Linked DNA regions of Homo sapiens: regions 1, 2, 3, 5, 6 and 7 are each linked to region 4. The links come from fine-mapping of genetic effects on gene expression. A gene starts in region 4. Each other region holds a variant in brackets. All regions are shown on one strand. Distances are between the middles of the regions.

Region 1 (4,066 bases), 120 kb before region 4:
AAAGAAAACTCTGTCAATCAAGAATTCTATATCCCAGGTAGGGCCGGGCACAGTGGCTCACGCCTGTAATCCCAGTACTTTGGGAGGCCAAGGCGTGTGGATCACCTGAGGCCAGGAGTTTGAGACCAGCCTGAACTACATGACGAAACCCTGTCTCTACTAAAAAGACAAAATTAGCCGGGCGTGGTGGTGCACACCTGTAGTCCCAACTACTTGGGAGGCTGAGGCAGGAGAATTGCTTGAACCTGGAAGGTGGAGGATGCAGTGAGCTGAGATCTCACCACTGCACTCCAGCCTGGGCAACAAGAATAAAGCTCTGTCACAAAAAAAAAAAAAAATTCTATATCCTGGGTAAACGAAGATTGAGGGAATCCACTGTCAGCAGAACTGTACTGCAAGAAATATTAAAGGAAACCGTCTGGCTGGAAAAACATGACACTGGATGATAACTCAGATCCACAGGAAGGAATGAAGAGCAACAGAAGTGATAAATATCTGGGTAAATACATATTTTTCTTTTCTTCCCTTACCTTCTTTAAACATGAGACTGCTTAAAGCAGTAATTATAACACTAGATTATTGGCTTTAAACATGTAGCTATAATATATTTGACAATAGTATCACACAGGAAGAGAGTGAAAGTAGAAGTATGCTGGTGCAAAGTGGCTGTGTATATATATATATTTTTTGAGATGGAGTCTCGCTCTGTCGCCCAGGCTGGAGTGCAGCGGTGCGATCTTGGCTCACTGCAAGCTCCGCCTCCCAGGTTCACGCCATTCTCCTGCCTCAGCCTCCCAAGTAGCTGGGACTACAGGTGCCCGCCACTACGCCCAGCTAATTTTTTTGTATTTTTAGTAGAGACGGGGTTTCACCGTGTTAGCCGGGATGGTTTCGATCTCCTGACCTCGTGATCTGCCCGTCTCGGCCTCCCAAAGTGCTGGGATTACAGGCGTCAGCCACCGCGCCCAGCCAAAATGGCTGTATTTTTACCAGAATTAAGTCAGTATTAATTTGTAATAGATTATGATTAGGTACAGATGCAACCCCTTTTATGAAAGCTAAAAAAAAGAAAAATCAGGGGCCGGGTGTGGTGGCTCACTCCTGTAATCCTAGCACTTTGGGAAGCCGAAGCAGGTGGATCACCTGAGGTTGGGAGCTTGAGATCAATCTGACCAACATGGAGAAACCCTGTCTCTACTAAAAATACAAAATTAGCCAGGCATGGTGGTGCATGCCTGTAATCCCAGCTACTTAGGAGGCTGAGGCAGGAGAATCGCTTGAACCCAAGAGGCGGAGGTTGCAGTGAGCAGAGATCCTGCCATTGCACTCCAGCCTAGACAACAAGAGCGAAAACTCCATCTCAAAAAAAAAAAAAAAAAAAAGAAAAAGAAAAAGAAAAAGAAAAAGAAAAAGAAAAATCAGAAGAATGACAGTGGTTTTCTGAAATGTTTGTTTGACTTTAAGAAGGCAACAAAGAAGAAATAGGGCTAGGCACAGTGGCTCACGCCTGTAATTCTAGCACTTTGAGAGGCTTAGGTGGACAGATCACCTAAGGTCAGAAGTTTAAGACAAGACTGGCCAACACAGAGAAATCCTGTCTCTACTAAAAGTACAAAAATTAGCTGGGTGTGATGGCGCGTGCCTGTGGTCCCAGCTACTCAGGAAGCTGAGACAGGAGAATTGCTTGAACCCAGGAGGCAAAGGTTGCAGTGAGCAGAAGTTGCAGTGAGATCATGCCACTGCACTTCAGCCAGGGCAATGGAGCAAGACTGTCTCAAAAAAAAAAAAAAAAA[G/AAAAAAAAAAG]ACAAAATAGGCCAGGCATGGTAGCTAAGGCCTATAATCCCAGCACCTTGGGAGGCCAAGGCAGGAGGATTGCCTGAGCTCAGGAGTTCGAGACCAGCCTGGGCAACATAGTGAGACCTTATCTCTACTACAAAAAAAAAAGTTAGCTGGGCGTGGCGGCATGTACTTTTAGTTCCAGCTACTCAGGAGGCTGACGTGGGAGGATCACTTGAGCCCAGGAGGTTGAGGCTGCAGTGAACTATGATCATGCTATCACACTCCAGCCTGGGGAACAGAGTGAGACCTTGTCAATCAATCAATTCATTCATTCATTCATTCATTCAAAAAGACTAAAATTATACAAAGTATATTCTCTGAACACAATAAAATTAATTAAAAATTAACAACAGAAAGATATCAAAAAAACCCCAAATATTTAGAAATCAAACAACCACAAGGAAAATTAAAAATGATGCCAAGTTTAATGAAGCTGAAAACACAACATAAAAAAAGTATGATATCCTGAGAGTGACACTGTATGGAAAAAAATTTATGAGATGCAGCAAAGCAATGCTTACGGGGAAATAAATAGCTTTAGAGCTTATATTAGAAAGGAAGAAAGGTCTAAAATCAATCCTGTAAGCTTCCACTTTGAGAGGCTAGAAAAAGAAGAACAAATCAAACCCAGTAAGTAAAAGGAAGAAAATAAACATCACACTGGAAATATATTTAATGTGATATCCTGGATTAGATCATGGAACAGAAAAAGTCCAGAAGCTGAATAAAGCCTGAAGTTTATATAAAAGTAATATACCAGTGTTTGCTTCTTAGTTTTGACATATGTACTAGATGAGGGATATATAGGAACTCTATTACTTTTTCAATTTTTCTATAAATCTAAAATTATTCCAAAATAAAAGATTTTAAAAATCCACAAAGAAAAGTCCAAGCCTAAATGGCCTCAGCACTGAATTTATCAAACTTTTTAGGAAGAAATATCATTCCATACAAACTCAGAGGAGGGAACACTTCTCAACTCATTTACAAGGCCTATATTACCCTGCTACCAAAGCCAAACAAGGACACCACAACAGAACTATAAACCAATAGCCCTCATGAAACAGATGTAAAAATTTTTTTCTTTCTTTTTTTTTAAAAAAAAAAAAATTAGAGAAGGGGTTTCACCATGTTGCCCAGGCTAGTCTTGAACTCCTGGGCTCAAGCAATCTGCCCAACTCGGCCTCCCAAGGTGCTGGGATTTCAGGCATGAGTCACAGCATCCAGCCAAGATCTTTTTTTTTTAAATCAGCAAATCCAATCCAGCAACATATAAAAAGAATTATACATCAAGACCAAGGCTGGTTTACTCCAGGAATGCAAGGTTGGTTTAACATCTAAAAAAACAACTACTGTAATACATTCTTAATATGATAAAAGACAAAAGGAACATAGGAGAATGATACAGAAAAAGCTGACAAAATCCAAAATCCAATTAGGCTATGATAAAATCTCTCAAACTAGGATTAGAAGGGGATTCCTTTAATTTAATAAATGACATCTATAGAAAACCTACTGCTAACATAATTAATGGTTAAACACCAAATGCTTTCATATCAACATCAGGAAGAAGAAAAGGATGTCTGTTTTTTTTTTTTTTTTTTTTGGGTGAGACAGAGTCTCACTCTGTCGCCCAGGCTGGAGTGCAGTAGTGTGGTTTCTTTTTTTTTTTTTTTGGTTTATCTTTATTTTTTTTATTTTTTATTTTTTAATTTTTTTTTATTATACTTTAAGTTTTAGGGTACATGTGCACATTGTGCAGGTTAGTTACATATGTATACATGTAGTAGTGTGGTTTCTGTTCACTGCAAGCTCCACCTCCTGGGTTCACGCCATTCTCCTGCCTCAGCCTCCCAAGTAGCTGGGACTACAGGCGTCCGCCGCCACGCCCAGCTAATTTTTTGTATTTTTAGTAGAGATGGGGTTTCACCGTGTTAGCCAGGATGGTCTGGATCTCCTGACCTCATGATCCGCCCTCCTTGGCCTCCCAAAGTGCTGGGATTACAGGCGTGAGCCACCACGCCTGGCCAGGATGTCTGTTCTGGAAACCCTTTTTTTTTTTTTTTTTTTTGAAGACAAGAGTCTTGCTTTGTCACCCAGGCTGGAGTGCAGTGGCACAATCACAGCTCACTGCAGCCTCAACTTCCTATGCTTAAGAGATCCTTCCACCTCAGCCTCCCAAGTAGCTGGGATTACTGGGGTGCACCACCATGCCTGGCTAATTTTTTTATTTTTAG
Region 2 (4,066 bases), 55 kb before region 4:
ATTCCATAGCTAGGCAAACTATCAATTAGTGAAATAGAAGAAATATTTTCATACATCCAAGGCATTTCTTACACCCTTTCAGGAATCCACTAGAAGATAGGCTCTACCAGTAGGAGATAGTAAACCAAGAAAGTGGAGATACGAAATATAGGAAATAGGCAGTATAACACAGAAGAAAAATGAAGCATGTAGTATGCATACATTGGTGTTAGTTTTCCTGTTTTCAGTACGGGTCCCTCACTTTCACCTTTACGTCGTGTTCACTAGACTGTAAGACCTTTGATTTATACTCTCCAGAGAGTAAATCTGTCTTTTGACAGAATGGAGAGGGGTAGTTGCCTTGGTTAGAAGGAATAGAGAAAAGGATCTAGGAATCCATCTCTGTAGTAAACAGATGCTGAACTAATTCTCCTTATTTTCACTTCATTCACCCTACCCTGCATACCCAGAGTTACCTGGACTCACCAGCTTCTGAGACTTTGGGGAATTCCATAGCGTAAATTGAGTTGGTTTTCTGCTTTTTCCCTTGTCAGTTTAGGATTTAGTTCTTGTCGATCTCCCAAGGCAATAGTCCATTTTATCTCTAGTTTCAAAAAAATTATTGCTCTTCTTCTCTTATTCTTTCCATCCTTGTGGTTTTATGTCTTGTGTAAAAATTTTTGCTTTTAAAAATTTTTTTCCTGTGTGTGAGTGAAGAGAGAAGAGAGTAGAAATAGATAGATACATTTAATTCACTATCCTTACTCAGAAGTTGCATAGTTTAAAATTTTAGAAGTAACTACCTTTTCGTTGTGCCATCCTCATTTAGGCCTTTATCACCTTGTTTTTTTTATTAATCTTGTCTTCCTACTTCTATTACTTCAAACTTTAAATCTGTCAGATTAATTTTAATTTATATTTTCATCTTGTTACTCAGACTTAAAGTTATATGTTTGTCTTTGTTGAATCTGATCCAGGTGTTTCATCGTGGCATTCAAAGCTTTCTCTTGGTTAGCACTTGACATCTTACCTTTTATAGGTCTTTTTCTTTCTTTTTTTTTTTTTTTTTGATTTAAAGAAAACCATTTTGTTTTCTTCAGGGGCAATTTTTTTTTTACATTCCACCACATATTATTTATATGTTTATCATATTTCTTTTATTTATTTATTTATTTATTTATTTATTTTTTATTATACTTTAAGTTTTAGGGTACATGTGCACATTGTGCAGGTTAGTTACATATGTATACATGTGCCATGCTGGTGCGCTGCACCCACTAACTGGTCATCTAGCATTAGGTATATCTCCCAATGCTATCCCTCCCCCCTCCCCCCACCCCACCACAGTCCCCAGAGTGTGATATTCCCCTTCCTGTGTCCATGTGATCTCATTGTTCAGTTCCCACCTATGAGTGAGAATATGCGGTGTTTGGTTTTTTGATCTTGCGATAGTTTACTGAGAATGATGATTTCCAATTTCGTCCATGTCCCTACAAAGGACATGAACTCATCATTTTTTATGGCTGCATAGTATTCCATGGTGTATATGTGCCACATTTTCTTAATCCAGTCTATCATTGTTGGACATTTGGGTTGGTTCCAATAGGTCTTTTTCTTTACAGCTCTTCACAGTTGCTGTTATGTGTCACCTAATGACACTTTGGTCATCAAAGGACTGCATGTATGATGGTGGTCCCATAAGATTATAATGGAGATGAAAAATTCCTATTGCCCAGTGACATCATAGTTGTCATAAGGTCTTAGCACAACACATTACTTTTTCTATGTTTAGATACATAAATAGTTACCACTGAGTTATAGTTGCCTACAGTATTCAGTATAGTAACATGTTGTACAGGTTGGGAGTAATAGGCTGTTACTGGGAGTAATAGGCTACATATAGGTATGTAGGCTATACACCTACATACCTAGGTGTGTAGTGGCTGTACCATCTAGATTTGTGTAAGTATACTCAATGATATTCACACA[A/G]TGTTGAAATCTCCTAATGACACATTTCTCAGAACATATCCCTGTTGTTAAGTGATACATAACTGTATTTTCATATCTCCCTTTAGACTTGCTCATGTACTTTTATCTATGTGGAATGCCTTTTTCTTCTTCTTTACTTTTTTTTTTTGAGACGGAGTTTTGCTCTTGTTGCCCAGGCTGGAGTTCAGTGGCTCGATTGGCTCACTGCAACCTCTGCCTCCTGGGTTCAAGCAATTCTCCTATCTCAGCCTCCTGAGTAGCTGGGATTACAGGCGCCTGGTAATTTTTTATATTTTTAGTAGAGACGGGGTTTCACCATGTTGGTCAGGCTGGTCTCGAACTCCTGACCTTAGGTGATCCACCCACCTCGGCCTCCCAAAGTGTTGGGATTACAGGCGTGAGCCACTGTGCCTGGTCTCCTTTACTTTTTTTAAGGCCCAGTTTGATTTACCTTTTTGAAACTTCCCCATGGGCTGGTTGCCTGCCTTCTTTATTTCCTTTAGTTTCCTCTTCATATTGAGCATCTTCTCTGCAAGTACTATGCCAGGCCTTAATTTAAACCAGGATTATCTTCTCTGAATTTACCTGGCACTCTTTTTTTTTTTTTTGAGACAGAGTCTCATTCTGTTGCCCAGGCTGGAGTGCAGTGGCATGATCTCGGCTCACTGCAGCCTTTGCCTCCCAGGCGATTCTCATGCCTCAGTCTCCCAAGTAGCTGGGATTATAGACGTGTACCACCACACCTGACTAATTTTTGTATTTTTAGTAGAGACGGGATTTTGCCGTGTTGGTCAGGCTGGTCTCAAACTTGACCTTAAGTGATCTACCCACCTCAGCCTCCTAAAGTGCTGGGGTTACAGGCATCAGCCACCGTGCCTGGCCTCCATGGTAATCTTTTTTTTTTTTTTTTTTTGAGACGGAATCTTGCTCTGTCACCCAGGCTAGAGTGCAGTGGCACGATCTTGGCTCATTGCAACCTCCGCCTTTTGTGTTCAAGCGATTCTTCTGCCTCAGCCTCCCGAGTAGCTGGGACTACAGGTGTGCGCCACCATGCCTGGCTAATTTTTGTATTTTTAGTAGACACGGAGTTTCACCATATTGGCCAGGCTGGTCTCGAACTCCTGATGTCGTGATCTGCCTGCCTCGGCCTCTCAAAGTGCTAGGATTACAGGTTTGACTCCATGGTACTCTTATATCCTATATAAACGTATTACTAAAAGTATGAACTTTTTTTTTTTTTTTTTTTTTTTTACAGAGGCAGGATCTCACTATGTTGCTCAGGCTAGTTTTGAACTCCTGAGCTCAAGCAATCCTCATGCCTTGACCTCCCAAAGTGCTGGGATTATAGGCATGAGCCACTGCACTTGGCCCTGAACTTTTTTTTTTAATGGAAAAAGTGTTTTTTCTTAGGAAAGTAACATATGCTTACTATTTCAAATTTATAGGCTGAAATAGAAAAATTAGCAGTAACATAAAAATATACTCAGCCTTAATGTATGTTAAACTAACAGTGGTAATTGTTTTTTACCAAGAAAATGACCACAAATTTGAAGGATTCCCAAAACACAGTGCTGTTGGAGGTATGGCTAAATTGATGCAGTGGATGAGGCTTTAAATTGGTATAACCTCCTTGGCAGGTAATGGGCAATCAGAGTTTTAAATGTGTCTACCCTTAGGCCCAGGGAGTCATTTTCAGAAATAATATGGAAGTACTGGCACCTGTGCATGAAGATACACAATGATGTTCCTTGAAACATTATTTATAATAGTGAAGGTTTGAATGTCATAACTATACATTTATAGTACAGAGTACTATGTAACTGTTAAAAAGAATGATCTACGTGTGTATTTATTGCCATAGCAATATATTGTTACGTGGAAGGGAAAAAGTTCAGAATAAGTACATCTGTACTTATGGTGGGGTTATGGCTTGATAAACCCATTGTAAATTGAAAACATCCTAAGTCAAAAATACATTTAATACACTTAACCTATTCTTAGCCTAGACTACCTTAAATGTGTGTGGAATACTTACATTAGCCTGCAGTGGGCAAAATAATCTAACTTAAATTCTACTTTATAATAAAGTACTGGATAT
Region 3 (4,066 bases), 180 kb after region 4:
TGCTTTCCATGGCTCTTCTCTCTTCTAATTCTCTCCCTACCACTCTGATCATTTGTATGTCTTTTGCCAACTTTTCCCCACGTTTCTGTCTTGGGAGTTTTTTTTTTTTTTTTTTTTTTAAGAGACGGGTTCACTCTGTTGCCTAGGCTGGAGTGCAATGGCATGATCATAGCTCACTGTAACCTCAAACTCCTGGCTTCAGGCGATCCTCTCACCTTGACCATTCAAAGTGTTGGGATTACAGGTGTAAGCCACCGCACCTGACTGGAACCTCTTTTTTTCCTACATTCTCCTTTGTGATCCCATCAACTTCCACAACTTTACTTACATTTATGTGAAAAAGTCCAAAATTTGTACATCTTCAGCGTCTACTTTTCTCCCAAACTCCCACACTTACATTTCCTAGAACCCTTAAATTTCAGATATGGAGATCTTAGAGGTCATTTATCCTAAGTCTTCATTGCCTGGATGTCTCCACCAAATGGTTCATTCGCTTTTAATAAAGTCCATGTTTTCAGGCCGGGCACGGTGGTTCACGCCCGTAATCCCAGCATTTGGGAGGCCGAGGCAGGCAGGTCACCTGAGTTCAGGAGTTTGAGACCAGCCTGGCCAACATGGCGAAACCCTGTCTCTACTAAAAATACAAAAATCAGCCGGGCATGGTGGCGCACACCTGTAGTCGGGAGGCTGAGGCAGGAGAATCACTTTAACCCGCGAGGCAGAGGTTGTAGGGAACTGAGATTGTGCTACTGCACTACAGCCTGGGTGACAGAGCGAGACTCCGTCTCAAAAAAAAAAAAAAAAAAAAAAAAAAGTCCATGTTTTCAAAACTGAATGCCTTATTTTCTCTCTGCTTTTCAGCTCCATTCCCAAATTGACTCCTCTTCTTGAATTTATTGTTTCTATAAATAATCACCTTGAGGCACACAGTCTTCTCATTCTCTATTCAGTCAGCTGCTAGTCTAGTGGATTCCATTGTCACAGACTCTCTTGGTTAGGTTCACTATTTTCTATTCTTAACTACTACGTTTCTAGGTTAAATCCTAATTATCTCCCACCTAACGTTTGCAGAGGACTCGGCTAGACTGTTCATCTCTGGTAGTTTTCTGCTTGGAATTCTGAGTCTTTTTATTCATTACCACCAAATTATCTCCATAAAGAGCACTTCTTATCTGCCACTCTTTTTTTTTTTTTTTTTTTGAGACGGACTCTCACTGTCACCCAGGCTGGAGTTCAGTGGCGAGATGCGATCTCGGTTCACTGCAACCTCCGCCTCCCAGGTAAAAGCGATTCTCCTGCCTCAGGCTCCTGAGTAGCTGGGACTACAGGTGCACGCCACCACGCCTGGCTAATTTTTGTATTTTTAGTAGAGACGGGGTTTCTCCATGTTGACCAGGATGGTTTCTATCGCCTGACATCATGATCCACCCTCATCGGCCTCCCAAGGTGCTGGGATTACATGCGTGGGCCACCGTGCCCAGCCTTGTTTTGTATTTCTAGTAGAGACAGGGTTTCACCATGTTGGCCAGGCTGGTTTCGAACTCCTGACCTCAAGTGATTCGCCCGCCTACGCCTCCCAGAGTGCTGGCATTACAGGCGTGAGTCACCGCGCCCAGCCAGGCCTGTAAGCTTTCTAAGGGCAGAGACTGCCTTACTATACACGTACCCCCCCCAACTAACACAGTACCATCCACATACAGACAGACGCCCAGGAAATGTTAAACTGTAATTCTGGATAGGTTAACTAGTATTAACCGTATTTACCAAATGTTTACCACATACTTACACTGTCCTCCTTGTTTCAAGGAGCGTAGTCCCCAAGGGATCACCCTGATGGAATATAAAAACTACACATAAGAGTGAAACTACGGAACGTAAGCCATTAGTGTTTTGCAAGACAGCTCGGGTTGAGACTCAGTCTCTCTCTTCCACAGGCCAAGTGACACATCGTAATACCATTGGTACCGTTTTATTTTATTTTTCGCGACAAAGTCTCGTCCTGTCACCCAGGCTGGAGTGCAGTGGCGCGATTTCGGCTCACTGCAACCTCCGCCTGCAGGGTTCAAGCGATTCTCCTGCCTCAGCCTCCCAAGTAATTGGGATTACAAACGCCCGCCACCACGCCCGGCTAATATTTGTATTTTTAGTAGAGACGGGGTTTCACCATGTTGGTCAGGCTGGTCTCGAACTCCTAACCTCAGGTGATCCGCCCACCTCGGCCTCCCAAAGTGCTAGGATTACAGGCGTGAGGCACCGCGCCCG[G/T]CCTGTTAGTACTACTTTAAAATCGAATCTGACCTCCAAATCATTTTCTGGAGCTCGATCATTTTCTGCTAACACCGCAAAGCTTAATCCTCTCCACCTGAGAATAAAAGGTTCCATCCTTCCGCTCTCCAGTTTGACGCCCTGCTAAGTCTCTCGGACGCGGTGGGCTGGAGTGAAGGAAGCCGGAGCCCACCAAAGCTGCAAAAGTACCACAGCCAGCAGCCCCGCCCCCGATATCCCCCACAGGCTTCCAATTGGTCCTTGTGGCTCACTCTCTTTCCAGGTTGGTGTTCCAGCTTGCCGGTCGCCTCTATAGAGCCCACCTTTAGACGGCGACTATTGGTAGATCGTTACGTCATTGCCCTATCTACCTCACTCCCACTGGCTCTCATAGGAAGGGGCGGTCGCAACGTCACGGGCAAGGGCCGCCATTTTGACTGAGCAACCCTAGTGACAGGAGCCGAAGCAGCAGCGCAGGTTGTCCCCGTTTCCCCTCCCCCTTCCCTTCTCCGGTTGCCTTCCCGGGCCCCTTACACTCCACAGTCCCGGTCCCGCCATGTCCCAGAAACAAGAAGAAGAGAACCCTGCGGAGGAGACCGGCGAGGAGAAGCAGGTGAAGTGGAAGGGGTGCGGGCGGGCGAGCTGGGGAGACCGTGATGGGGCGGGAGACGGTCTCCCACCAGTGCGGATTGGTCGCCATGGTCTCAGGCTCCGCAGGGGTTGGCCACTTTTTGCGTCACGCTGGGTGAGCTTCAACACGACATGCTGCTTTGGCGCTGGTTAGTTGGGTCGTTTGTCACTCAGTACTGTACTCTTCCTGATTGGCCAATAGGCCTACCGCTCAAACCTTGGACGCTGTGCTATAATTGGCCGAGCATGGACGTGGGGCGGGTGGTTGGAAAGACGGTGAATGGAAAGGGGATGGCTGGTGGTCTTGGGTGTGATGTGTGTTATTGGTTTGTAGAGGTAAGTGACCCAGCAACCGGGCTGGGGCCCGCAGCCTCAATCCGCAAAGATAGGGGTCGAGGTAAAGACGTTTAAAAAAAAACCAGTATTGGGGGAGGGGAGAAGTGTAGTTATTATAATGGCTAGTTTAAGGCGGCAACTTTCTCAAGAGACCTATTTTAGTAGCTAAGGATGGTCTATTGCTCACCTTCAGTGAGGACCCAGCAATATTGAAGAGGGCTAGAGTTCCAAACAGAATCATGGTAATTAAACTTGGAAAAGACGCCGACAGGGTCGTGAGAAAGACACTTCTCTCTTCCCCTAGACTTCCAAGGCAGGGACTTAGTGCACCTGCGATTCCGTGATGGAAACACTAACGCCAAATAAACCCCTTATTGGGGTTTGTATTTGACTTTTAAAATTTAGTACTGGGTTCAGGTACTCATTAAATACACTTGGTGTTATATCTATGCGTAATTTCCAAGAGAAAGGAATATAATTCCACTAAAAAGAGTCATACGTTGACTTCATATCTTTTCAAAAAGTCACTAAAGGGCAGCAGGGACCACAAAAAAAAAAAAAAGAGATTGACTACAGTAGTGAGAGTCCCTGCACCACCAGGGTAGGTATTGATTTTTTTGATGAAAACTGGTGGGTAAATACTAGTGAGCCTACTGTATCTTTGTTTTCCTGAGGTTAAAAACAGTATCATTTTCCTCTCTGTTTATCAGCTTGCTACCATAATATTTGTGGAAATGTTGAAGCAAGGCTGTGCCATTACTCAGGTGGAGATCTTTGGAGAAGGCCACATAGCTAGCCGCCTCCACAGGGAGACCTAACAGGTGGCTTAGACCTTGAA
Region 4 (4,066 bases):
TTTTATTCTATGTGCACACTTACAGTATACATATATATTTATATCACAATTTACGAAACCAAAAAGTTGAGTTTCCAATGGAACCCTTGTTTTTTAATAATCGACTTTTTAAATGTGATCAGGACTATAATATTGTACAGTTATTATAGGGCTTTTGGGGAAGGGGAGGATAGCGAGAAGATGCTCTGGGGGTTTTGTTTTTGCTTTTCCTTCAGGGTTTTATTTTTGACTGTTTTGTTTTCTTGTTGGCCATTTCTGTATTGCTGGCATCTGTGCTAAGCTTTACAGTGGCAAAAATAATGACATGTAGCAAAGATTTTCAAACAAAATATTTTTTCCTTTTGTAAAATTTCTTGTGTTGTGTGATCTTGATTGCGGCTTTATCATTCCTTTCCAGTTCATAAACAACAGGCACCCACAACCAGAGGAATCTATAGTTTAAGCTCCAGACATACAAACATAAGGCACATTGTGTCTTTAATTTCAGGAATCAGAAATCATAGGGTTCTGATCACATTGCACGCCTCCCCCCTCACTTGTCCTCCTGATCCTGACACATTCTGAGTAACATCAGCAGGAATGCTCTGACCATGAGGTGGGGGTTTTGGGGTGGGCGTTGCCTGGGTTCTTGGGAGAGAGGGGAAGAGTCGGGACTTGAAAACCACTAGGGCACATCTGGATGCCTTCCCCCAGTATGTCCTTTTCTGGATTAAAATGAGTGAAATTTAAACTGTTCAAGTCTGGACCTGGTTTCCCTCTAGGAGACTATGTTGGTTCATTAGCAACTTTTTTTTTTTTTTTTTTTTTTGTGTGTGTGTGTGTGTGTGTGTGTGAGAGATGGAGTCTCGCTCTGTTACCCAGGCTGGAGTGCAGTGGCACGATCTTGGCTCACTGCAACCTCTGCCCCTTGGGTTCAAGCAATTCTCCTGCCTCAGCTTCCCAAGTAGCTGGCACTACAGGTGTGTGCCACCATGCCCAGCTAATTTTTGTGTTTTTTTTTTTTAGTAGAGATGGGGTTTCACTATATGTTGGCCAGGCTAGTCTCGAACTCCTGACCTTAGGTGATCCACATGCTTTGGCCTCCCAAAGGCCTGGGATTACAGGCGTGAACCACTGCGCCTAGCCTGTTAGCAGCTCTTAAAATCCAGAGGCATAAGCCTGTATTTTTGAGGGTTTATGCATGGAATCCAGCTAGAAACTGAGTCTATTACAGATCCCATTTATTATCCTTTCTATTCCAAGAAGCCTTTTTTTCTCCTTCCCCACATCTGTTTATGGAAGAAAATGAAGTTTGGGGTGTGGTTTGAGGAATCAGCTAGATTCTTATGATCTGTCACATGCTTGGATGTTGGGGAAGCATTTGGAGAAGCTCATGTGACTTGTCCTAGATTGGGGATTTTAATTGAGACAGATGATGTTTATCGGGCATCCCACCACCTGAGAGTTTTAGCAACAGAGTCACATGTGAGTCCATCAGAACTTACGGCATTGATTCAAGTGCTGTCATAAATAACCAGGACTGCTGTTTTTGGTTACTTTTAAAGACAGTTTCATCTGGACTTTCTGGGCATATCCTCCTTCAGCAAAACCACATTAGGCTGGGAAAACTATTCTGCCTGGAAGTAATGACAACTTGCAACCAACAAGCTTATAAAAATACAAAGAATTCTGGAGCCTATGGCTTCCATTACATTATTCTTTTATAGCCTTTTATGTTCATTACCGCATCCCAGAGGTGAGAGTCAGACACAAATATGAAAATAGGTTTCAATGTTGGAGAGGTAAATCCTAACAGGAAAGGGGTAGGAAAAGATATAATCCCCCAATATTAAAATAAAGATATTGAAGAAGAAGGATGGGAGAGACTAGGGCTGTGTCCTTCCTTTTACTCACCAAAAGAGAAAGTAAGCTCCTATTTGAGTCAATAGATATTGAGGTCTTGTTATTTGCCACCAAAGACAGTCTTGTGAGACTAAATAGCTAGTAATTCCCTACCCTGGCACACATGCTGCATACACACAGAAACACTGCAAATCCACTGCCTCCTTCCCTCCTCCCTACCCTTCCTTCTCTCAGCATTTCTATCCCCGCCTCCTCCTCTTACCCAAATTTTCCAGCCGATCACTGGAGCTGACTTCCGCAATCCCGATGGAATAAATCTAGCACCCCTGATGGTGTGCCCACACTTTGCTGCCGAAACGAAGCCAGACAACAGATTTCCATCAGCAGGTAACGTTTGCAACTTCCTAGATCTTTTAGCTTTTCATTCCTGTCAATTCTCTGAGTATTAGGGATGTAGTGACTTGAGGATCACAATAAACTTTTAGCCTCTGCAGATGAAAACAGAGATGCACTTCTTAGGTCATTCCCTGGCTAAATAAAATCTGCCTGGAAATCTGTAGAATTCCTTGTATGATTTATATATATACATACATGATTGTTAGTAAAAGCAAAGTATATAGGGAATCATTTCCCCATCCTTCAAGAGTGGCCTTTCTGCAGTGTTTTCTACTTTGGCCAACAAGGATCAAAACGGTTAACTCCTTAGTGAGGAGGAGGAGAGTGGTATGGGGAGGTAGTAGCTCAGTGCTTCCTGTTCACTGAGACATCTCAAAGCCCTTAACACTCTAGTTTTTAAATGTCCTACTGGACATTTTGCCAGTTTGCAAAATTACATGTAAATGGACTATAAGCAATTGTGTAAGCCATATGTCATGCTGCAGGCTGCAAATTGTTCTTAAAATGGAGGATTTGTAATTAAGAAAGCCAATGCAAGAAATGAGTGAAGCTAACTAGAGTAAACTTATGAAAAGCTGTGAATTTCATCATCATAGAACATTGCTTTTCAGTCTGAACATTCTTCTAACAAACCTTGGATCTGAGGCTTCTTGTCCTTTGCGGCAGCCACAGTGGGTTTTTGTTGTTAGGGGAAAAATAAAAAACCTTGCCCGCAGCATCTGGTTAAGATTAGGGCAGTTTCCTGCCTAAGGAGGGAAGGGAGAGAAAAAGGAAGAAGAAATGCATAAGGAGAATGAGGAGATATACAATGTCTCAGAAAACAGGAAACATTGTCCTATTTTCCCTTGTCCTCTTCTGACAAGATCTGGGAAAGTACCAGAATTTAGGCACGAAAGAGAAGAACGCCTCGAAGAAATGATCAGGAGGCAAAACTTAGACGGAAATCTCTCCTTTGTGTATTCTGAACCCCACTACCACCTTGCTATTTGTCTGTCTCCAAGCCTGCTAGGGACCCTGGAGGAAACGCACTGAGCCCATTCTGATTGTCCAGTTTCTATCCCCCATTTCTGGTTGTGTACGTGTGTGTGTGTGTGTGTGTGTGTGTGTGTGTGTGTGTGTGTGTGAGAGAGAGAGAGACAGAGAGAGAAACAGAGAGAGTGTGTGTTGCCTAAATCTCCCGAGAGAGAGAGAGAGAGAGAAAGAGAGAAATGGCTAAATCCCCCTAGATCAAAGTCCTTGGAACCAGATGTACCAGCATCCTATCTAAACACAGGCCCCTCCTGACTATCATTGTTTTATCACCCTTTTTCCGTCTACCTTTCTCTTCCTCATAAAGCCTAGTTTTCCTCTGTTTCCCTGCCAAATGGAAGAGTTTTCCCTAACTACATTCTTCTGCAGGATGTGGGGGCTCAAGGTTCTGCTGCTACCTGTGGTGAGCTTTGCTCTGTACCCTGAGGAGATACTGGACACCCACTGGGAGCTATGGAAGAAGACCCACAGGAAGCAATATAACAACAAGGTGCCTGGGGTCCTGGAGGGGGCATGGCAGGAAGGCTGAGACCTGAGCTCTCTCATCTTAGCTTCCAGACTCCCTTCTTCAATCCAAATGCTTTATTCCAAGCAAATCAGTCCCTCTTCCCTAACTCATGTTAACATACGGTTTTCATTCCTATGCTTCAAATCATCCTCTGTCAAACTGTATCCTTCCTTTGCTTTATAAGTGTGTTACATTTCTCTTTTGGGAAGAGTTCTAAGATTAATGCTGTTAATCTATAAGCAATTTTTCTGTCTCTCCAGAGCTTTGTGTTGTATTTGTTTACATATTATC
Region 5 (4,066 bases), 21 kb after region 4:
CAGTCATTGTAGCTGGAGGGATACAAAACTTTGACAGGCTGGCCTTGGGACCTATGCCCACTCTTGAAGCTAGGGGCAAGATTGGTTCTATCTTAAGCCCAGGAGTGTCAGGGTTTCCCCATTTTAAAATCAGGGTGCTGTTACCACGAGAAGGAGGAAGGGAAGCTGGTGAAAAAAAGTATACTTCCAACACCTTTTAGCTTAGCTATTCTCAACTTTCCCATATTACTATAGAGAAGACAGATGTTGTTCACATTTTCGACACATTTCCACGGACACGCTCACAAAATAATATCAGTCGTTGGTAGCTACCCATAATTCTCCCCTTCTCTCTCCCAGAAAGCATACTGGAATGCACATCTATCAACATAATATTATTATAGGGATAATCTGCTGAATTGGCTCTAATTGTTAAACATGTCACTTTCAAACTGTTGGTACTTTTTTATTAGTAATACATTTCTTGTGACTTACTTTGTAATTAATTGTAACACATCAAATGTGTCACACCAATTGTTATTCATTTGTTAGGGGAGGGGTCTTATCACTGGCTTCTAGAGTACTCCCTAATTATGTCTTATTTTGTTCTCTTGGTAAAATTAAGCTCCTTCTTTGAGTACACATTGCTAGGTGACAAGGAGTACTTGTAGGATAATGGGGGATGTCTACTAGGATCAAATAATGCACCAAGCAGATAAGCTACACAGAATATCAGAAAGAATATATATTTTCAATTCAGAACATTCCTATTTTCCCTAATGACTCAAGAATTCTGTTTTCTTTCTTCAGAAAGTTATTGCATAATATTAACATAAAGTTAATTGAGGGGAAACTCAACATTATGGTAAAATCGTCTTTTCTAGTCCCATATTCTCCTATAGTCCATGAAGGGTATTCCTCACCTCACCTTTGTGCATTTCTTGGACAGTGAGGTCAGTAAGAAGTAAACTATTTTATTATGAAAATAATGTATGTTATTAAATTCCTAGCACACTTGGGTAAATTAACAGAGACTAGAACTAGCATTGGAATGAATCATCCTAAAATTCAAAATCCTTTTCTTTAAGACTAAATAAGGGTAGGGCGCAGTGGCTCACGCCTGTAATCCCAGCACTTTGGGAGGCTGAGGCAGGTAGATCGCCTGAGGTCAGGAGTTCAAGACCAGCCTGGCCAATATAGCAAAACCCTGTCTCTATTACAAAAAAAAACAAAAAACAAAAATTAGCCAGGCGTGATGGCGCGCCTGTAATCCCAGCTACTCAGGAGGCTGAGGCAGGAGAATTGCTTGAACGTGGAGGTGGAGGTTGCAGTGAGCCGAGATTGCACCACTGCACTCCAGCCTGGGCGACAGAGCAAGACTGTCTCTCTCTCTCTCTCTCTCACACACACACACACACACAGACTAAATAAGACAGAGAAACTTAAAGCAGCTGATTTTCAGGGGGCATGAAGCTAAGAGATGGTTACTTCAAAAGCTTGAAAAGGTACAACTGTAACAAGCAGGGACAAAGCTTCCTTATTTTGCTTTCATTTCTCCTTTTCCACGTTATTCAGGAGATGTTGCCTCGTTTGTGATGAAAGGGAGTCTGCATTCCCGATAAGACTTAGTGTTGTGCAGCATTCTGGATAAGACTTAGTTGTTGTGCAACTGTTGTGCAAAACATTTGCCTTGTTTTTTTGTTTTCAATCGCTATTGAAATAAATTTGCAAAAAGTGTGCCCCATTTCAGGGCAATTTACAGCTTTGCAAAAATCCAGTTTACAGCTTTGGAATGTCACAGGATGATGTGTAAGTTTATAAAATACCTTAAGTGATACAAGGATAGATTATCTAATGACATGTTCCCCTAATGTATTCAAACACTGTATGTGTTTACAGACTTTTGCATACCAGGAGGAGATTCAAAGAGAAACCTAAGGCTTAAAGCCTCAGAAGCCACTGCCAAGTCATGATGAACCAGAAATGAAGACAAACCATGTAGAATATTATAATTAGGAAAAGTTAATTCAATGAATGTTTATTGATTATTATCTAAATATGTGTTAAGCCACAGTGCAATACAAAGATGAGTAGGACAAGATCCTGTATTTTCAAGTTAGCTAGTGAGATAAAACTATCTTACGTGCTACAAATACAGAATCAGAATTTCGTGGTACAATTTGTATCGTGCAAGTGTAGCTAGAGGGAAGAAGAGTTGGGGTAGTTAGAGAAGGCTCTGAGGAGGCAGTACTTGAAGTGGATCTTGCAGAACAAAGAGGCCAAGGAATGGAGAGAGCCATTCTAGAAAGGAGGCAAGAATGATTGGGCAACTGGGGAGGTCCATGGGACCAGCATGGCTACATCAGAGGCTGAGTTTTCAAAATCTGGGGTTTTGTTTGTTTGTTTTTGTTGTTGTTGTTGTT[GTTT/T]GAGACTAGTCTTGTTCTGTCACCCAGGCTGTAGTGCAATGGTGCGATCTCAGCTCACTGCAATCTCCGCCTGCTGGATTCAAGTGATTCTCGTGCCTCAGCCTCCCAAGTAGCTGGGACTACAGATGAGGCACTAATTTTTATATTTTTAGTAGAAACGTGGTTTCACCATGTTGGCCAGACTGGTCTCAAACTCCTGGCCTCAAGTGATCCACCAGCCTCGGCCTCCCAAAGTGCTGGGATTACAGGCATGAGCCATCAGATTGCCTGAGCTCAGGAGTTCAACACCAGCCTGGGCAACACGGTGAAACCCCATCTCCACTAAACTACAAAAAATTGGCATGGAGGCGTGTGCCTGTAATCCCAGCTACTCGGGAGGCTGAGGCAGAGAATTGCTTGAACCAGGGAGGCAGAGTTTGCAGTGAGCCGAGATCGCGCCACTGCACTCCAGCCTGGGCAACAGAGCGAGACCCCCTCTTTAAAACAAAAACAAAAACAAATTGAGTAAAATGCTCAGGAAAGGGATCCAGAGCATGGGGAAAGAGCCTTGGAAGGCAGGGGCGCAGGACTTCATGCAGCAGGCAACAGAAAACATTTCTAGAAAACAGCATGATAAAAATGTGTTTTAGGAGCACAGTTTGGCAGTGATGTGCAGGATGAGATTCCACAACAGACTGGAATGAAGGTGCTGAAATAATTTAAATCATCAGAAAATATTTATTTAGTGTCTGCTGACCATCGCATCATATACTGTGGAGGACACGAAGAAGAGTAGGAGCTACAGGGCCCCTGTACTTTATGGGCTAACAGGTAGTTACATAAGGCAAAAATACAAATAATTATCATATTAAACAGAAAATTAAGAGGATGGTTTTTCTGCGCTCAGTCTATGTGTCTGCCACAAGGAGCCTCAAAGCCTCAAAGCTTGGTAGAAGCTCAAAAAGTGACATCCAGTTGGGGATAAAGAAAGGCTTTTTTTTTTTTTTGAGACGGAGTTTCACTCTTGTTGCCCAGGCTGGAGTGCAATGTGCGATCTCGGCTCACTGCAACCTCCGACTCCCGGGTTCAAGCAATTCTCCCACCTCAGCCTCCTGAGTAGGTGGGACTACAGGCATGCGCCACCACACCCGGCTAATTTTGTATTTTTAGTAGAGACAGGGTTTCGCCGTGTTGGTCAGGCTGGTCTTGAACTCCTGACCTCAGGTGATCCACCCGCCTCGGCCTCCCAAAGTGCTCGGATTACAGGCGTGAGCCACTGCACCTGGCCGAGAAAGGCTTTTTGTAAGAGCTATTTTCAGAGATGGGCCATTAAGGAGGAGCAGAATTTCAAGCAGCAGAAATGAGAAAAGGAAATTCCAGAAAGAGAGAGGCAACACGATAATTTTGGGAAAGCACTACTTTAAAAACAAGGTTGGTTCACTTCTAGGTCAATGGACAGTTTTGTCCTCTTGAACAAGTTAGCCTCTCAGAAGTTTAACTTCTCCTCTGTAAAATGAGGATAATAATATCTACCTCATAGAGTTGTGAAGATTAAATAATAATGCACAAAGAGTCTAGCACACTCATTGGCATATAATTGGCATCCAATTAATGTTAGCTAGGACTATTAGGATCATTAAGCAAGTCAACAGTGCAGAGGGTGACAAGCATAGATGATCTGG
Region 6 (4,064 bases), 240 kb after region 4:
TTAAAGTGCTGGGATTACAGGCGTGAGCCACCGTGTCTAACCAAAAATAAATTTTTAAAAGTGTTTTTGGCCAGGCGTGGTGCCTGTAATGCCAACACTTCGGGAGGCCGAGGCGAGTGGATCACTTGAGGTCAGGAGTTCGAGACCACCCTGACCAACATGGTGAAACCCTGTCTCTATTAAAAATACAACATTAGCCAGGCGTGGTGACACATGCCTGTAGTCCCAGCTACTTGGGAGGCTGAGTGAGTAGAATTGCTTGAACCCGGGAGGCGGAGGTTGCAGTGAGCCGAGATCACACCATTGCACCCCAGCCTGGGCAACAAGAGCAAAACTCCATCTAAAAAAAAAAAAAAAAGTGAAGAAACTAGATCTGAAGCCTTAATTTTCTCCCCTATAAACAGGACTTAACGATACTGTCAGCTATCTTATTACCGCAAAGATTTAAAGAGAGACTATTGATACACGTGCTTTGTGCTTTTACCTTAAAGCACTACACAAATAGAAGGAGTTTCAGGACTGTCCCTTAAGGGTTTACTCTATTAACCATTTTCAAGTCCTTAAATTCCCTAGGAGAAGCAATTAAGAACCAGGCATCAGTAGAGTATGTTGAATTAAAAGGTTCTACAGCTGTATTTTGAGGCCTGGAAGAGACACAAACAGGACTTTCTATGGCTAGGCAGAGCAGAAGTCACCAGTTAGGAAAAATCCCCAGGGTCAGAAACCACCTCCCTGCCAAATTTGCCCTGCTGCCTGTTTTTGTATGGCCCACAAGCTAAGAATCATTTTGGTATTTTTAAATGGTTGAAAAAAATGGGCCGGGCACAGTGGCTCATGCCTGTAATTCCAGCACTTTGGGAGGCTGAGGTGGGAGAACTGCTTGAGCCTAGTAGTTCAGGACCAGCCTGGGCAACACAGTGAGACCTTGTCTCTACAAAAAAAAATTTTTTAATTAGCTGGGTGTGGTGACCTGCACCTGTGGTCCCAGCTACTTGGGAGGCTGAGGCAGGAGGATGGCTAGAGCCCTGGAGGTCAAAACTGCAGTGAGCTATGATTGCGCCCCACCCCCGCACTCTACCCTGGGCAACAAAGCAAGATCCTGTCTCAAAAAAAAAAAAAGAAAAATTTAAAACTTTAGTGTCACAAGTCTGATTGGAACACAGCTACGCCCATTTGTTTACTTATTGTCTATGGCTGCTTTGTGCTGCTACAGTAGAGAAGCTGCAACAGAGATGATAGGTCCTGCAAAGCCTAACATATTTATCATCTACTCCTGTAGAGAAAAAGTTTGCCCAACCCTCTACTAAAGCTAAAGAGGAGTCTCATTTTGTGATGAAAGAGGCAGGCAACCAATAGTCAACAGTAAGGAGGAGAGGAATGTAGCGATGGGAGAGAGGAAGGGTGACCTTGTTCCAGGGGAGATGATCTCTGCCTGTCTCATCAAGGGGAGGGCCTTTTAGCCTAGGGATCCCAGGGGTACAGTCTGCTCCTTTTTTTATAATCCCACCCTCTTTCCCCCAGTTTCTTTTCCTCTTCACTCAAAGTTCAGTGGAGCTATCTCAAGAGATTCAGGTAAGGCTCAGAAGAGTACAGCACACAAACATGCCGACCCAACCTAGCCTTCCTCCCCCAGCACAGGGCTCTTCCCAGGCCTCTCAGCACAGCTCTCCAGTGCTCACAGGAGAAATGCTC[T/C]GCTCTGGCCAGCTTCCAGCCAACTCTGCACCTCCCCTTCAGCTGGCAGAGCTGATGGCTCCCTGGCATCTGACTGCCATATCTCGTGCATACCTTGTTTTGGACTAATCTTATACATTCCTCCCTCAAATCCTTTCTTCCTTCAGACTCAGCCCTGAAACACCCTCTTGAGTTTTCCCAGTCTCCTAGGTCAGGAAGCCCAAAAGTCAGATTCAGGGTTTATGCTGGCTACTTTGAGGTTAACCCAAACTTTTTCTGTCTCTTGTTGACAGACTTAGACTTAGGTACTTTCCTGAGGCTTTCTACTTCCTTTAGACGGTGTCTCTGCCCTTTAAAGCTGACAGCTCTTCATCACCTACCTGTGGCAAACCACCTCTACTTGAAACACACACCTCCCCAAACCATAATTTCTACGGTAGCATGATTCTCCATGGTTCAAAGAGAGGAGAGGGCTTCCTGGGTCAGTTTACTCTGGTGGGGAAGATGCTAACATGAAGTCTCTATTTGTAAACCTGGGGACAAGGGGAGAGCAAGGAATGAGAGAGGGTCTGGCTGGAGAGAATCTGGAGGGAGGCTCTCCTGGCATCTTGTTCTCTCTACACCCCACCACCCTCCATGTCCATCTAGAGTCTCCCACCAGAGCTCTTCTCTTACAGGTTTCCTGGGAGAAGGTGGCTTAAGGCTGAGACACTTATGCCCTGGGCCAGCCACTGGATTCCTGTGCTCTGCTTCACTCCTAGTTACCAGAAAGGTGGAATCTGGATGAGTGGAGGTGAGGAGAAGGTTCAAACTCTCCACCAGACCCATGCTGCAGCTGTGAGCACCTGCTTACAGGGAGGCCTGGGGGTTGGGGAAGTCCAGGAGCTAAATTTAGTCCAAAAGCTGCAACTTAAATTGGGTGGGTATTTACCCTGGGGAAGCTGGGAGGGGGAGGGGAGAGGAATCCTGACCCAGCTGAACTTGTGAGAGCACAGATCACCCCTAGTGTCACTGATACTCAAACCACAACCCCCTCCCCCAGCACACCCTCAGAAAGGAGGCATCCTCAACAATTTGCAGGCCTTTTGCATGCTTGATCTCTCTTGTGCATATCAAGTTTGTTCCTATCACCACCCCACCCTCATCTCAATTCTCAGGGGTCCAGTTCCTCTGAGTCCTTCCCTAAATTCCCACTAGTGCACCAAACCCAGGGGCCCTCCCCACATTCCTCTGCCCTCAGGCTGCAGCTTCTGCTCTCCCAAGTCCCCCCAGAGGGTTTCAGAGGTCAGCGAACAGGTGTCTGGCCACACTACTCCCCTCTACGGGGCCAAGAAAAGGGATTGCTTGGGGTCGGGTTCCCTTTCCTGAGAACTTCCGCATTGACCCCATAATGACCTCAGTGACCAGAGGAAGGAATCCTTAGGGGCTGCACTGAGTCCTAGCTCTAAAATAAGAGGGGAAAGGGAGCAGACCCCCAGAGGAGAGCCCACCTCCTGAGAGGTCAGAGGCTGGAGGCCGAGAGGGAGCTCATGGGCGGGCAGAAAGAGAAAGGGGGTGCTGAAGCCGGGGAGCCCTGCGAGGGGCTGCGACCGCACCTCCACCTGCGATTGGTTCTCAGGCTCAGGGCAAACGCCAAACCTGCCCAGCAACAGCCCTGAGCAGAGGGAGGGGAGCTTCGGGGAAGTCAGCTGAGCCGGCACCGCCCAGCTCTGGGCTTCCAGGAATCGCTGGGAGGGCCCCAGCCTCCACCCCACCCCTCCCTGGGTCTCAGGACTCTGCCTTCGGCCTTCTATACCTACTGGGCGGGCTCGGATCCCGTTTCCCTGGCCCCCCACATCTGTGATTCCCTGCTGAGGCCTCTTTAGGCTCAGCAGAGACGTTGGAACTGGGCTTTCCTTGTGGCCCCCTTTCCTCGCTCCCTGCCCTGGGCTGACGTCAGTTTTATCTTCCTTCTCCATTCCCTTTTGCCTCCTTCCCCACTCGCTCTCCTCTTAAGATGTCCAAATTCTTCCTTCTCAGCCACTTTCAACCCAGAGAAAGCCCGAGTCCCAAAGCAACAGGAAGATGTGCGGGGGACCGCGAGTGTGGGGACATCCTGCCGCCTCGGGCAACTCTGTCGTCCCCCACAGGGTTCAGGTGCTCAGAAAACAGCAGCCACTGAGTTCACTGTTTCCGCAGGCCCCGTATTCCCGGCCGTGCTCAGCTGGGCTTGTGGAGTCGCGAGCGGGGGCGCTCCTGCGGCACCGCCCCTCCTGGGCAGCCCGGCTTCCAGGAGAGACTCGGCCTCAGTCTCCGAATGGCAGGGGTCTGGGAGAGGATGTGATGGCAAAGGCCTGCCCCTCTCAGGCCGCCTCTAGCAAGTTCTCTACCTTGAGAGAAGCGAGTAGGAGGAG
Region 7 (4,066 bases), 24 kb before region 4:
GTGAGCCGAGATTGTGCCATTACACTCCAGCCTAGGCAAAAAGAGTGAAACTCTGTCTCAAAAAAAAAAAAAAGAAAAAGAAAAAGAAATGAATTTCCCACTGTTACATACTGTTTGATACAGGATTTTGTTTTAATTCATAGTAGTCTGACTACAAAACCTCTACTTTTTCCCTGTTACAACACAAGGCAATATCCATTTACTCAGACCATTTCTTCTTTTTTTTTTTGGTTAGAAATTTGAGACTTCCTATGTCTTTCAGTAGGTGTTTAGTGTTTATAAATTATATACTGTACGTTTTAGGATTCTGTAGAAAATATGGTGGTCCTTTCTATACAGGTACAAAAGGCATCTCAGGGTCACAAAGTTCAGGCTATATAATGGAAATTGACTACATTGTACTGAGAGGATAGTTGCTAGAAATTATGGGTAGGATATTAAAGGTTTGCTTGGAGAGGCACAAAATTGAACATTATGTGGTTTAGTGATTTATTTTTATTTTTATTTATTTATTTTTTTGAGACAGAGTCTTGCTCTGTTGCCCAGGCTGGAGTGCAGTGGCATGATCTTGGGTCATTACAACCTCTACCTCCTGGGTTCAAGCGATTCTCATGCCTCAGTTTCCTGAGTAGCTGGATTGCCACCACAGCTGGCTAATTTTTGTATTTTTAGTAAAACAGTGTTTCACCATGTTGGCCAGGCTGGCCTCAAACTCTTGACCTCAAGTGATTCGCCTGCGTCAGCCTCCCAAAGTGCTGAGATTACAGGCCTGAACCACTGCACCCAGCGTGTAATTTAGAGTAGCTTCTAGACCCAGACTGCTGGATTTTGTTTTAATCCATATTCTATGGATTTGAATTCTAGCTTTGATGCTATCTTCTGAAACCTTGGATGATTACATGACTACATTGTGCTTTGATTTCATCATCTCACATTGGCGATAATGTTAATACTGACTTTATAAAGTTGTTATGAAGATTAGATGAATTAATATATGTAAAGATATTTAGAACAGAGCATGACACATATTAACCCTATGTAAGTTTTATTTTTGTTTTAAAGGATAGGGAGAGGGAAAGTAGCATTGGCAGGAGTATCCCAATATGTGGACATGGCTAATGCAAAGACATAGGCAAGAGCAAGATAATAATGAACTGTAGCAATTACATTAAGTTGTGGTTAATGTAGAGCAGGAGTAAGCAAACCACAGCCCTTTATTTGTAAATAAAGTTTTATTGGAACATAGCCATGCCCATATTTTTACATATTATCTATGGCTATTTTCATGCTATAATGCTAGAGTTGACTAGTTGCAACAGACTTTCTGGCCCGCAAAGCTGAAAATATGTACTATCTGGTCCTTTACAGAAAAAGCTTGCCAACTCTTGATGTTGAGAATGTTTGCATATGAAGAACATATGGAACATTTTGACTTCAAATTCTAAAAGTTTTAGAAATACTAAACTTGACCTATCTTTATCCTTCATTATTAGTAGCATTACCAATTTTCTATGTCTGGTTGTATCCAGAGCATGTTATTCTGCTATTACTGTGGAAAGTTCTTTGATAGGGCAGTCTGATTGCTTTTAATCTCTTTATTCCTTGAAACAGGTGTGGCAGTAGCTCTGTGGACCCAGTTTCTGTGAATAGGCTGAGCTTTGTGAGGAACAGATGCAGGTGAGATCCTAAGTGGTGAAAACCAAAGGGATGGCCAAATACCTGCAGAGATCATCACATTTTTACCTGTCTTACTGTAGTCGTTCCTTCAGCAGCTCTCACTTGCATCCCTTACCTCCCACTTAACATCCCTTACCTCCCACTTACTTTTTTTCTGGCAATATTTTCCTAAACTTCTAAAACTTCTCTTGAAAATCCTGTTTAAGGAAGTCGCTATGCTATTTTACCTACTTTCCTCCTACTGCATACCTTTTGGTTACTTTACTTTGGCAAGGGTAAAAATGTGGCGGTCATTTTTGGGTGGGAAAGATGATTATCCTGTTTT[C/G]TAAACTCCTAAGAGCATAAACTTAAAAGTACTAAGGCAGCATTGCCCTTTGAGTTTTACGGGTAGATTTTTTTTTTTTTTTTCAAACTCCTGTAACTCTTCTAGGAATGGACTTGGCTCTGTAAAGGATGGGGAACCTCACTTCGTGGTGGTCCACTGCACAGGCTACATCAAGGCCTGGCCCCCAGCAGGTAAGAAAGTGAAATAGTAAATATTTCCCCTTGGTACAGTTGGTTCCTCACAGAGTCCATGAAAGCTAATATTTATTATATACCTGGTATATGAAATGTACTTTTGTGTAAGATGAAAGAAAATAGGAAAAGAAAATGTACAATCCTTCCCTTCCATTATTGAGCTTTTATTCCAGTTGAGGAGATAGATAACTCAGGCTGGAAAATGATTCAGTATTGGCTGTGTCACAGAATGTGGTTTTTATGTGAACAAATTTATACTGAACATATGTATTCTAAGCATTTGTTGCAAAGAAACTTAGACATTGAATGCAGTTAATTTGAGAAAGATTTCTAAAGTAGGAACAAGACTTTGAGAGAAAAGGGGAAAATGCCTTTATTGTAATAACTTATCAAGAGGATATTCTCTGCAAAGACTTTAAATCAAGCTTTGAGCAGATTAGCTTTACCAGAACTTGAGGTCAAACAAGGAATGTGAGAAAGGTGATTGGGTTGCAGGATCAAAGTTTTAAGTTGGCTTGTCAGAGTTTCCAAATCTTAGCAACTTTATTACTTCCCTGCTGCCTGGGTATTATTGGAAAGTAGGGGTTTTGGGGAGACAGAAACTAAGAGAAAAGAGAAGCAAGGTGATGTGTTTTGGAAAAAGGTTAAACTTTGGATGTGGAGAAACCTGGATGTGATTCCTGTCATTGTTACTTATTAGTGGCATCACCTAGGGTAAGTTGCTTGACCTTTATAAAGCTCAGTTTTCTCATCTGTAATTCAGAGTTAGTACATCCTGTATAGGGTTTTTGTGAGGATTAGATTTAATGTAAGGAAAGCATCCAGCCCAGTGCCTGGCATATGGCAGGTAACCCAATAAAAGTAATTAATGTAATTTAAAAAAATTTAACTGAAGTAGTAATGACATTTGAACTACTTAGTCTATATACTATATAAGCCACACAGTTAAAGTATGTGATCTTTCATACCTCTATGTAGCATCAAGGAATACTATTTTTCTGGATAAAAAGAGTATAACTATGCAAAAAACAGGGGAGAAATGCAGTCTTCTTCCCTTTCTGTGTAAAACATTGGTTTTTCTCTTTTCCAAGGGACATGAATAACTATTGATGGTTGGTATAACTTCATTTTGGGTTGCTTGCTAACTTTAAAAGTTACAGATTAGGCAAAGCATAAATTTTCTGCCTATAACATGGTCATAGAATGGATGTCTTCATATGTGCCATATTTGGCCAGCATAGTTTTTTAGAGTACTCTGGGTAGGACTTGTATTTTCCAGTTTACTATAATTAACATGGGTAAAATGTAGGAATTAATATATATGTAAATACTTAAAACAATGACTGGCATATATGGTAAGTTTTATATACTTGTTTATTCTTATTTATCATTCTCTATTGCTTTATGCTTAGCCTCTTCATAACTAGATGTATTTTGTTTTGTTTTGCTTTTTGGTTTTTTTTTTGAGAGGGAGTCTCACTCTGTCTGTCGCCCAGGCTGGAGTGCAGTAGTGCGATCTCGGCTCACTGCATCCTCCGCCTCCTGGGTTCAAGTGATTCTCTCACCTCAGCCTCCCAAGTAGCTGGGATTACAGGTGCATGCCACCATGCCTGGCTAATTTTTGTATTTTTAGTAGAGATGGGGTTTCACTGTGTCGGCCAGGCTGGTCCTCAAGTGATCCGCCCACCTTGGCTTCCCAAAGTGTTGGGATTACAGGCGTCAGCCACGGTGCCTGGCCCATAAATAGGTCTATTTTGAATCTTTACTTGTCTGAGTTTTGAAGGCATTTGAGTTGGAGGTCCCCGTTAAACCTTTTAACGTCACGTTTCTGAAGGTGTTTCCCTCCCAGATGATGACCCAGAGGCTGGCC

What was found.
Region 1: its variant is fine-mapped to the expression of CTSK in whole blood (INTERVAL, PIP above 0.99).
Region 2: its variant is fine-mapped to the expression of CTSK in whole blood (TOPMed, PIP above 0.99).
Region 3: its variant is fine-mapped to the expression of CTSK in whole blood (INTERVAL, PIP above 0.99).
Region 5: its variant is fine-mapped to the expression of CTSK in T cells (TOPMed, PIP above 0.99). The same link has a PIP of 0.9 or more in blood mononuclear cells.
Region 6: its variant is fine-mapped to the expression of CTSK in whole blood (TOPMed, PIP above 0.99).
Region 7: its variant is fine-mapped to the expression of CTSK in whole blood (TOPMed, PIP 0.99).

The regions. Positions count from the first base shown.
Region 1 is chr1:150,931,096-150,935,161 of GRCh38, reverse strand. All of the region lies in intron 3 of SETDB1 (SET domain bifurcated histone lysine methyltransferase 1), which reads right to left. Among named protein-coding and RNA genes, the nearest start is that of SETDB1, 6.8 kb to the right of the region's middle. The variant G/AAAAAAAAAAG (reference allele first, on the strand shown) is at 1,794.
Region 2 is chr1:150,861,866-150,865,931 of GRCh38, reverse strand. The region is part of intron 1 of ARNT (aryl hydrocarbon receptor nuclear translocator); the gene reads left to right. Among named protein-coding and RNA genes, the nearest start is that of ARNT, 13 kb to the left of the region's middle. The variant A/G (reference allele first, on the strand shown) is at 1,969.
Region 3 is chr1:150,628,223-150,632,288 of GRCh38, reverse strand. ENSA (endosulfine alpha) reads left to right here and starts at 2,677. Exons shown (of 4, transcript NM_004436.4): 1 at 2,677-2,875. The coding sequence starts at 2,819. It overlaps LOC112268239 (a long non-coding RNA gene), which reads right to left and starts at 2,470. Exons shown (of 2, transcript XR_007066603.1): 1 at 1,787-2,470. RefSeq lists enhancers at 1,013-1,982, 1,983-2,950, 2,693-2,962. The variant G/T (reference allele first, on the strand shown) is at 2,263.
Region 4 is chr1:150,806,377-150,810,442 of GRCh38, reverse strand. CTSK (cathepsin K) reads left to right here and starts at 2,183. Exons shown (of 8, transcript NM_000396.4): 1 at 2,183-2,229; 2 at 3,637-3,757. The coding sequence starts at 3,638. ARNT (aryl hydrocarbon receptor nuclear translocator) reads left to right here. Exons shown (of 22, transcript NM_001668.4): 22 at 1-730.
Region 5 is chr1:150,785,498-150,789,563 of GRCh38, reverse strand. No RefSeq gene overlaps it. Among named protein-coding and RNA genes, the nearest start is that of CTSK, 21 kb to the left of the region's middle. The variant GTTT/T (reference allele first, on the strand shown) is at 2,403.
Region 6 is chr1:150,561,502-150,565,565 of GRCh38, reverse strand. ADAMTSL4-AS1 (ADAMTSL4 antisense RNA 1) reads left to right here. Exons shown (of 4, transcript NR_104133.1): 3 at 2,349-2,464. Among named protein-coding and RNA genes, the nearest start is that of ADAMTSL4-AS2, 5.8 kb to the right of the region's middle. RefSeq lists enhancers at 2,120-2,169, 2,440-2,719, 2,068-2,921, 2,922-3,773, 3,600-3,779. The variant T/C (reference allele first, on the strand shown) is at 1,693.
Region 7 is chr1:150,829,945-150,834,010 of GRCh38, reverse strand. ARNT (aryl hydrocarbon receptor nuclear translocator) reads left to right here. Exons shown (of 22, transcript NM_001668.4): 9 at 1,612-1,677; 10 at 2,108-2,193; 11 at 4,031-4,066. Among named protein-coding and RNA genes, the nearest start is that of CTSK, 24 kb to the right of the region's middle. The variant C/G (reference allele first, on the strand shown) is at 2,003.